2 separate regions of the Homo sapiens genome follow, and region 1 is linked to region 2. The links come from fine-mapping of genetic effects on gene expression. A gene starts in region 2. The other region holds a variant in brackets. All regions are shown on one strand. Distances are between the middles of the regions. Region 1 overlaps ASIC5 (acid sensing ion channel subunit family member 5). Region 2 holds the start of TDO2 (tryptophan 2,3-dioxygenase).

Evidence for each region. PIP is the estimated chance that this variant, and not a neighbour inherited with it, causes the effect. A credible set is the group of variants that fine-mapping cannot tell apart.
Region 1: its variant is the best candidate, but not a certain one, in a credible set for the expression of TDO2 in sigmoid colon (GTEx, PIP 0.52).

Annotation. Positions count from the first base shown.
Region 1 is chr4:155,838,394-155,843,784 of GRCh38, forward strand. It overlaps ASIC5 (acid sensing ion channel subunit family member 5), which reads right to left. Exons shown (of 10, transcript NM_017419.3): 5 at 5,288-5,391; 6 at 3,814-3,961; 7 at 420-476. Among named protein-coding and RNA genes, the nearest start is that of ASIC5, 25 kb to the right of the region's middle. The variant G/A (reference allele first, on the strand shown) is at 2,948.
Region 2 is chr4:155,900,310-155,905,637 of GRCh38, forward strand. TDO2 (tryptophan 2,3-dioxygenase) reads left to right here and starts at 3,387. Exons shown (of 12, transcript NM_005651.4): 1 at 3,387-3,484; 2 at 3,709-3,814; 3 at 4,758-4,848. The coding sequence starts at 3,450.

The sequences.
Region 1 (5,391 bases), 62 kb before region 2:
ATATGCCAAGTGCATGCAATAAAGTGAATGAATGAAGGACTATTCCCAATCAGTGAGAGGAGTTCTCAGTAATAAAACTTCTATTTATTTTTACATGATTTCCTTTCTATTCTGTAGTATTTTAACTATTCACAATAAACTTGTTTTATTTGTGAAACAATAAAAAGCAGCTAGGATATTTTGATTATAAAAAAGAACAAAATTTAAAAATTTAGATGTGTCTTAATATCAGAGGGTTTTTGTTTGTGTATACTGCCTGTGTTTGTTAGCTACTATTTAAGAACACTTACAAAAAGATCTTCTCTTATATACTATATTCTGTTTAATTTCTGGGCTATCCATAGTTTGACTTAATGTCTTATATTACTTTGAGCAACTTTAATATAAATCCTGAAAATAAAAGTAAATTAAGCACTTACCAAGTACAGGAGAAACACAGCTGAAGTACTTTTGTAGGTCACATTCTATCCCATATCCTTAAAAATAATAAGTGTAACATATAGAGACTTTACATTTTGTAAAATAAGTGATCTAATGACAAAAATACCTTTCTTACCTACATCTATCCATCCATTCATCCACCCACCCATTCTTCTATATGAACATCTATTCTTTCATAAGCAAAACTATGGAATCAAGTTAGTATCCAGTGAAAATATGTGTTGGGAGGAAGAATAATGCTTTTGTTTCTTTCCATACCTCTTTCCATCTGTCTATATCACTCTAAAATCTTTAAGCGGGAATAATAATTTTCAAATGTGAGTAGTTTTCAAATTTAAAATTACTTTCACAGTTATCATCTCATTTGATATGGTTCACAATCCTGTCATATGAGAATTTTCATTTTACAGATAAAGAAACTAAGCCTCAGAAAGAGTGGCTTGCTCAAGACCACACAGTTAGGGGAAACTTGGCACATTCTGTACATCTTCCATCCTGCTCCCTCTATCCATTTACACACACACACACACACACACACACACACACACACGTTCCTGACAGACTGCCATTCCAGAAGTAGGATGGGGAGGGGGCAGGTAAGTACCAATATTTGTTAAGTACCCACTATAGATTGTGAGATAAGTAGAAAATCACTATGTATCAGAGCTGGGTTTACTCCTACGGCTGATTCTAAAGACTTAGTCTTTTAGCCTTAATACAATATTTGTCTATTGCTATAGCCCATGTGACTCAGCAGTTAGCCACAATGTTTAGTCAGTAATCTTGAAAATAACCAAAGGAGATTGTCCACTTACAACGTGCGGACAATTTGTGGAATGTTTGGCTAACTGTAAGGAAGTGCTCTTTATGAATAAAATACAATAAGTAAAAAAAAAAAACTACCTCCAACACTGAGTTAGGAAAAAACCTCATTTTTCTGAATTATTTCTTGCTCTGGCAATAATATTTCTTCCATTATAAAGAGCAATTCAGAAAAAAAAGATGGTAGATGGAACACAGAAAACAAAAATAAAAACAAACAAACAAAAGAACAATGAAATTTTGGAAATAACCAATATCTGAAAAGCTGTTTTGGAGATTGCTTCCTCAAATTGTTAGTGGAATTACCTCAGCGAATTTGTTTAACGTTTAGAATCTTCCGTTTATTCATATATCAGTACACTTAAAGGGATGTGTGAGAATCTAACCAAATAAGATCATATTCCTGAATGCATTTGATATATATGCTAAAGTTCATGCAGATATCATTCTTTGTGTTTTATATAGCACCTTGCCTAGTTTCTGGTCCACATTAGCCAGTAGGTTTTGGTTTAATAATCATAACTTTTAAAATTGTCAACATTATTCTGCATGAAACAATTCAGACTTCTTTCCAGCAACTTTGCCAATAAATTAGGAATGAGAAATCAGAGCCAGAGCCAGCAGTTTTATATAGAACAGCAGTTTTTGCAGTGGCCAGAGATCAATAATCTGGATACTAAAAAGAAGGATGTGATGATTATGGAAACCTCTGGAAAATAATGAAACCACTTTTGCAAAATTTATATCTTTTTTACTTTTATTATTTTTTATATTATATATAATATAATATATATTTTTTATATTTTATATATATTTTATATTTATACATATTTTATATTTATATTTTATATATTTTTTACTTTTATTATTACATTGAAAGAGATTTGACCTAACTGACTCCATCTTGTTTCTAACCTCCAAGCTGTCCTTGTTCATTCTTGGGCGTTCGCTGAACTAACTTTGGGAGGAACTTAGTTTATGGTTTAGCTCTGAAACAAAGACAATAACAGCCCTTTCCCAAAATAAACTCCCTTCCTGCCTGGGGACTAGATTGCCTATATAGGGCTAACAAATTAGCCACAAGATTAGAAATTATGTTTAGGGGTCATGCAGCTGGAGGGTGCAAGATTCTAAACCGCCCCAAATTGCTTATAGTGATAACATTACTATTGTAAAAGCTAAGATCAGTGCTTGAGATATGTTGCAGACCCTGCCTCCAATGATCAGCTGGCACCACCCAGAACAAAAATCTGGCCCATCTGGTTTTGTGACCCCTACCCAGGAATTGACTCAGCGCAAAAAGACAGCTTCAACTCCACATGATTTCATCTCTGATCTCACCAATCAGAACCCCTGATTCACTGGTTCACTGGTCCCCTACCCACCAAATTATCCTTAAAAACTCTTATCTCCGAATACTCAGGGAGACTGATTTGAGTCATAATAAAACTCCAATCTCCCGCACAGCCAGCTCTGCATGAATTAGTTTTTCTCTATTGCAATTCCTTTGTCTTGATAAATCAGCTCTGTCTAGGCAGCAGGCATGGTGAGCCCGTTGGGCAGTTACAATATTTTGGCAGGTAGATTGTGTTACAATATATCTTTCTAGATATGCTGTGGGAGGGGGATGTAAGAGACCTGAATACAAATATCTGACATTTACATAGACTATATTCTGTGCCAG[G/A]CACTATTTGAACCACTTACATACCCCTTTCATTCTTACAACAACCCTATAAGATGGGATTATTATCCCCTCCTCCATTTGACAGCAGAGGAGAGAGGTTAGGTCACTTGTTCAAGATCACCTAGGGGAGAAATTGTAGAGCCGACATGAGCAGCCTGGTTGAGATCCAGCTCTTATTCACCCTGCTCCATTGCTTCCTTGAATGCTTGCCTCTCACCCATGGTTCTGGAAAAGTTGCAAATTGTATGAAAAGGAGGCCTGAAGTTAATTTTACAGTCCCAAAGAAAATAACTTTTCAACAGTGAAATCTTCAGGCTTGGTAAGACATATCCATGATCTAATTTTTCTTTCAAAATTAAGAAAATCTTGGTGTGCTGTTTTAGATATTTGAGACCATCAAATTTTAGCCTTTGGGAGTAAGTATTGGGGCCCCACCCTGATATCGCAATTTTCTCTTCCAGAAATCTCTGCGATGATTTTATAATGTAAAATTTGTCAGTCGAAGTTGTACCTGGCAAATGGATAATTTTCCAGTGTAGAATTTCAGAAGAATGGAAAACAATTTAGTGATATGTTGATTTGCTATGTTTCAAATTAAGTAAATATAAACATAAAATTCAAAGAAATTTAGGACTAAACTTCTGGTGACTTTGTTATTAGTTGTCATTTTAGTCTGCAAAGAGAAGGAACAGGCTTAAGAATATAATAATTTTTCTGTGAATGGGTCAGCAACATCTGTAATTACACTTAATAATACTTAATATTCCATTTGTATTTCAATACTCTATTTCTCCCAGACCTTTTGTAACCCTCTAAGAAACACTTAACTGTCTAGTTAAGTAAGGGGGCAGTTAGTCTTTATTTACCAGGAAGAAGAAAAGGCACACATCCACATTGCTTTTTTATGTGCTGGGCTTTGCATTCCTTCAAGCAACCAGAAGTGCTGTAGCTGCTAAAATTCTGCAGCTTGATGTTAGGATTGCATTCTCCCCAAGGGTATTCTTGATGAACTGTCTTAAGATAAGATAAATACTGGGTTCAGGAGATGTGTTTACATCAATTCACTTATTTTCCATCAAGAAGCTGGTACACATTTTTATTTTCCTCTCAGAGCTCTTTGATTTTCAAAACCAAAATTGGTTACATTTGTCTATTTTGCCTACTCTATTGACCTGAAATTCCCTGAAGCTAAGTATAATAGTGATCCTTAAACATATATCCCAAATGTGAATTAATAAAGTCAGACACATTGAGTATTCTAAAAATCAACTCATATAAGGAAAAAATATCATTTATGTAAATGTTATATTAGTGTAGTAATCAGCTCACCTACAAAACAGTGAAGAAAATCACATTTTAAAAAGATCCTTTAATAAGCAACTATTATGTGCCAGGCAACATGGTGTTGCAGAACTTTCTCCTTAGTTCAGCTAAAACTGGGCTCTTGTCACATGACCAGGAAAAATGAGGCTCGCGGGCAAATAGAAGGGTGAGGAAAATGGAATTTATTGGGTGAAAAGAAAAAAAGAAAAATGACTCTCAGCTAAGTGAGAGAGAGTCCTGCTGGTAGGTTTCCCACCTCACAGATTGAATCTCAGGCCACCACACAGGAACATGAGAGGCCAGGCTCCTCCCCACTGCAAACAGTGCAAACTTCCCAAGGCTCCACCCCTTCCTCCCAATGTGCAGGTGGGCATTTTTCAGAAAGAATCAGGTGGGAAAGGACAGCCTTCATCTGGGACAAGCAGTCCAGTTTTTCAGCCTTCAGGCTGTTTTAGGTTTGAAGGCAGGGTTTCACCAGGGGCCCTTGGCTGTCTCCTGTGTCTATCAATGGTAAGTGCTTTCTTTATGGTACTTCACTTAAACTTCCTTACTATGAAAGAAAAATATTACCCCTTCCCTATTTGTGCAGAGAGGAGATGCAAATTCAGGAAGCTAATTAAAGAAGTTACCGGGCAAGTAAGTGGCTGGCAAACAGAAACCTACCAGACCAGCCTGACTCCAAGATTCCTGCTTTTCCCACTAATTTTCTCCTTCCCAGATAGTCTCATTGAAGAATCATAGCTCAGCAACTTAGGTACCTCTTTATACTTAATGACCCTTTCCATTTCTAATGAAATGTAAAGTTTGGATTTGATAGGCTTCCCAGCTTTCACTTACATAGTTTCTGTTTCCACTAATCATGTACCTTCAGATAAAGGAAAATAATCTGAAATGAAATTTTGGAATTTCTAATGGTGTTTTACAGGCATGGGAGAAAGGAATTTCTAGTGAAAAGCATTACTTATGTGTTTGATGCATTCACTACCCCACCTAATTTCCTCAGACTCGAGTATTTACCTTCACTTGGCGGATGGTTACCCTTGCGTGCATTCCCACAGGTGACAACAAGCCTAACCCATCAAACTGTGGCACCTTCTTTGGTGAATGGATAACAAAGATGA
Region 2 (5,328 bases):
AATGGCAATTTATCTTGTCAACTAAAGTTTATTGAATGGCTGCTATGTTTACAGATGCTTCTTGGCTTAGAAAGGAAAAAATCTGTTAAAAAAAGTAATTATTCAATTCCTAAATATATTATAGCTCCTGATGAACAAGAGCTGTATGTATTAGATTGGCTTCTGCATAAGAAAGTCTGAGCCCGAGATAAGGATTTGGGGGATGGGGATTTATCTGGGAGATGTTCCCAGAAAGTAGTGAGGGACTAAGGAAGTTGAGACAGGAAAAGAGCCATAAATAAATTATTGAGGTCAATGTCAGGAGCAACTGTGGGTTGCTCTGGGCTATTTGAAGAAGGGTGCAGAATCCTTTCAGAATTCCCCTACTGAGTCAGCATTTCTGTGTCTGCCACAATCTACCACTGTTGAGTAAGGAAAAGAGTGGGAAATTGCATTGGCAGACAGGAAGATGTTGCAGCAGTTTTAAGCTGTGAAGGGTAGATGGAAAAAGAAAAGTTAACATCTTATGGAAGAGCACATGTGGTGCTTTGTAGAAAGAAATATTGTGATGGCTGAAGGGATGATCTTTATAAACTCCTATTCACGTTCAGAGTTTAGCTCAATGCAAGTTCCTGCTAATTCTCATTGCTCTACCCTCGCAGGCTCACTCTTTTCTGCACCCTAACCTTAGAAATCAAGAGGAAAGACCTAGAGACAAAGATTTTTGTTATAATGCTTTATATCTGATTTTCATATTCTTTTACTACATGTCTGAAAAAGAAAGTTGCTATATCTCTTAGCTTTCTAGTATTTTTACTTCTGAATATAGATTAGATGGTTTCTAGGGTAACTTTTAGGCCCAGAATTAGTTACGATTTGCATCTTCTTAAACATGCTCATCTACCAGTGTTGCCTCCAGCATCTTCCTTCTCTAAGCCATGTGTGCACAGAATTATGTGCATATGGAAATAGAGTGGGTTTAGAAGGTTACTGCAGATCATTGCCTGTACCCGTAGAATCTCCTCTCTTGATCTGTTAAATGTCTGAGGTTCTATTACATTGTATTATTTGAGTTAAAGTATATTTCCAGAAAGTCTGTGTAAAATATTCAATATATAAATAAATAGGGAGCTGTAGATACTATAGTCATAGAAATTCTAAATCTGAGCCTAGGAGCAGTGGCTCATGCCTGTAATTCCAGCATTTTGGGAGGCTGGGATGGGTGGATTGCTTGAGGCCAGAAGTTCAAGACCAGCCTGGTCAACATAGTGAAACCCCATCTCTAAAAATAAAAATAAAAATAAAAATAAAAATAAGAAATAAATTCTAAATGTGATTATAAATAAAAGTTTCCTAATTAGATTATCATCAGATGGACAAATTGGGTTCGAAGTGGCAAAATTTAAGTATTGGCAAATGATGACCAGAATATAACTAGTAATACATTTGATAATGCTATTGCAAAAAATAATGAGGATGTGTGTGTATGGGGGCCTTCCACTGTAGTTACTCTCCTGGATGAAGAAAATAAGTTATTTTTAGATTAGCTTGCAGTTTCTCTGATGCCCCAAAGTCAAGTCTTTCAATGATCAGTTCTTGTGATGTAAAAGCAAATATTGAATTGATACTACTACTTAAGAGTGAAATGTCATTTCTTTAAAAAATTTTTTGTTTCTAAAATATCTATTTTTTCCAATTCATAGGAAAATTTGTTTCCTTATTTGTTTTACTAGTATGTTGACCAATAAGTGAAGGAAACTTCTCAGCTCAAAAGGCTTAAAGAGAGTGGAATAAATTATTTAGCATTATTCTCTGTAAACACGTACCCAGTTGAACAACTATGTAGAGAAAGAGGGGCTGTTAACTGTTCTCTGCTTCCAAACACTCTAAGCCAGGACACCAGGAAAAGCAACAGTGACTCCACCGCTCTCTCAGGTAAGGTCCCTATCCAGTGTGTAGGCAATTTCCAGGATCATTCATAAAAACTCAAGGGAAATGTGACAGGTATAGCATATAGTTTTGATGATTTTCAAGTTCAATTATAACATGGCATTTGCATGTTGTTTATCTTTCTGTACTAGATATATAATTTATTATTCAGTAATAAAATCAAGATTTTAACCTGGGTCAGGATCTTGAAGATTATAATCAGCTTAAACACTTTCTATTTTGGTGAGGAAATTGATATGTACAGAAATTCAGTCAGTTTTTCTCATATTACAAGGTAGTCGTAGAGCCAAGACTAGAAATCAGGTTTCTGACTTCCAATGACTTTGGCTAATTAGACAAAATTCCATCATGGTAGATGATTAAATAAAGGCTAAGTGCTGTTTCTGCCTATAGTTCTTAGTGAGTAGCAGTGGCATGCTAAGGATAAGGCCATGAAGCTTCTATCCTGGCTTAATTGTTCTTGGGGCAATTGTTTAGAGCTTAGATTAATAAATGATGTTTCAAGGAAGAATATTTTTATCACTGACACTGTATAGAATTATGGGCACATGGCTATTATTGGTTCTTGTTGTTGTTGTTGTTGTTGTTTTGTTTTTGTTTTGAGACAAAGTCTCACTCTGTTGCCCAAGCTGGAGTGCCATGGCACAATCTTGGCTCACTGCAACCTCCACCTCCTGGGTTCAAGCGAGTCTCCTGCCTCAGCCTCCCTAGTAGCTGGGACTACAGGCACGCACCACCTTGCCTGGCTAATTTTTTTGTAGTTTTAGTAGAGATAGAGTTTCGCTACGTTGGCCAGGCTGGTCTTGAACTACTGTTTTAAAATTCTATATAGGCAATGTATGCTAATGTGGATGACTGCTAGCTACCCTGTCATTGGTATGCCACAGATGAATAGTAAACTGATAATGTTCATTTAAATTCCAATACAATGTGTTGAGAGCTTAACTGCTGCTGATTATTACATGATATTTAGGTCAGAAGAACTCTGATGATTGAATGGAAGTGGGCTTTGAGCATGTACCCAGACTTTATTATACAGTTAATTTCCCTAGAGGTGTTAAATTTCAGTTTTTGGTCTAGAAGCTGTAAGAATATTCAAATTTGAGAGAATACATATTTGTTTTTTACAAGCTCATCATCTTATGTATCCTAATACTATGCCAAATGTTTTCTTGGGATTGAATAAATGTAATTTTTTTAACTTGGCCTCTGTTGATTCATTGGATGTTTGTTACTTTGAATATAAAAGCAGAACTTGGCAAGTCATACAACTCAATTTGGCAGATCACTCACTCTTAGCAAATGAACTGTGCCCAACATAAATCCACTCTAAAGTTTACAGAGGTTCAGTTCTGTACCAATGGAAATGAGAAGTTAGCTAAGAGTACAAGAAGCATGCTGATTGGCTGATGCAGGGTAAGCAGGCTACATAAAAGGCAGCTGTAGAACATCTGGGAAGGTCAATGATAGCATCTGCCTAGAGTCAAACCTCCGTGCTTCTCAGACAGTGCCTTTTCACCATGAGTGGGTGCCCATTTTTAGGAAACAACTTTGGGTGAGTATTTACCTTTATTCTAAGTGGGTTTTGGCTTTTAGAAGTATCAGGTGTGAGCATTTTAATTTCTGAATTTAAGGAGCATTGAAAACTGTCACCTTTATTCCTTTGTCTAACAATCTACTCTAAAGAAAATTTGCAATGAGAATTTTAATCACCCATATCATTAGTTAACTGTGTTTTCTAAAGCACTATTTTTCCCTCTTGATTTATTAAATTTGCAGATATACTTTTAAAAAACTCCCCGTAGAAGGCAGCGAAGAAGACAAATCACAAACTGGTGTGAATAGAGCCAGCAAAGGAGGTCTTATCTATGGGAACTACCTGCATGTAAGTGGCAGGGTCCTTACAGGGTTTGGTGTCCATTGTTAGGCACTCAATTCTGCCAAGTGACTTTTTATGATTTTATTTCTTGGAATTAGGGAAAGTCACCAATCGTTTTCTGGACCTAAGGATATTTTTATTCATAAACACTTTTACGTTTTCAACTTTTGTTAGAATAATTCAAGAGACTTATAGGATAAAATTCATATCTCCAGTGGAAGTAAGAGCAGAGAATCCAGAATCTGGGAGGCGTATACATGATAAGATACACTGTGGATAATTCACAGGCATTGTGCAACTTGTATAGATAAGACATGGTTAATAAATGTCAGCCTAGATAACTGCAAATGTATCTTGAAAAAGTTCTCCTTTAAATCTCTTATCATGAAGTCGAAATGTAAAAGGCACACAGAGAATTTTCTTAAAATCATTAACATATAAAGAGGGATGTTAATGAATGAGGTATTGGGAGATTATTCTGGGCCAAGTTTCAGCCTGTTTGTCTTCTATTTTTTTTAAGAGGCAAAATGATTAGTCCTTGATGTCTTCATCGGTGAGTTTCTAAGGATTAACTGATAAAGAATGTTAAAATATTCTTAGAATAGGCTCTTTAGGGGAATAAAAGAATGCCAAATGCATAGTCAGCTCAGCAAGTTTTCAAGTTTTCATCATATTCATTTCATGAAAAGGGATATGATGTCTCAAAGAGCTTAATAGGATTTATTATGATAAAATCCTACCAAATAGAAATTTTCTGAGAAGAATAAAAATCACAAATTCAATTCACTCTTTATGATGAGATTCGTCCATTGTTTAAAAGAAACTAGATTGGTTTCTGAGAATTTTGAGTTTGGAGGAGCATTTGTCATTATCATATTCTACTTCTTACTAAAGTTCATAAAAACCAAGTTCTGCAATTTCAGACAGGCTTTTTATTTTTCATTTCAAGTTGGAAAAAGTTTTGAATGCACAAGAACTGCAAAGTGAAACAAAAGGAAATAAAATCCATGATGAACATCTTTTTATCATAACTCATCAAGGTAAGTTGCACAAAGGTTTTGGACAATATTCCACAGGCATTTCTCATTGATAACGAGGAAAGCTACAATTTTTAAACTACAAAATGATGAAAGATCATGGAATCACCTCTGTTAGAAATGTTTGAGAATATTTTGCTGCCAGATGAATTCTCATAGGACTGATATAAGGATTTCAATAGTCTTCTTTATGTTACTCCTCTGCTAATAGGTGAAGTAGGACTTTAGCTTTGTTCTTAACTCCAAGGGGACTTTCTGCCTCTTGGAATTTCACTAGGAATTCACAAGTGAAGATGTTACGTTTCTCACTTCGGAACACTAAAAAACTATTTTCAAGATCATTGAAATTTATGCTGGATTGACATAATCCTATACAAATCTAGTAATAAAGACAAATGTAAATTGTGTCCAAAAATGTATGTTTATCCTTTCCAGATTTCTATAATGATTTCTGGGCAGTGGGTTTTTTTTTAGCCTATGTGT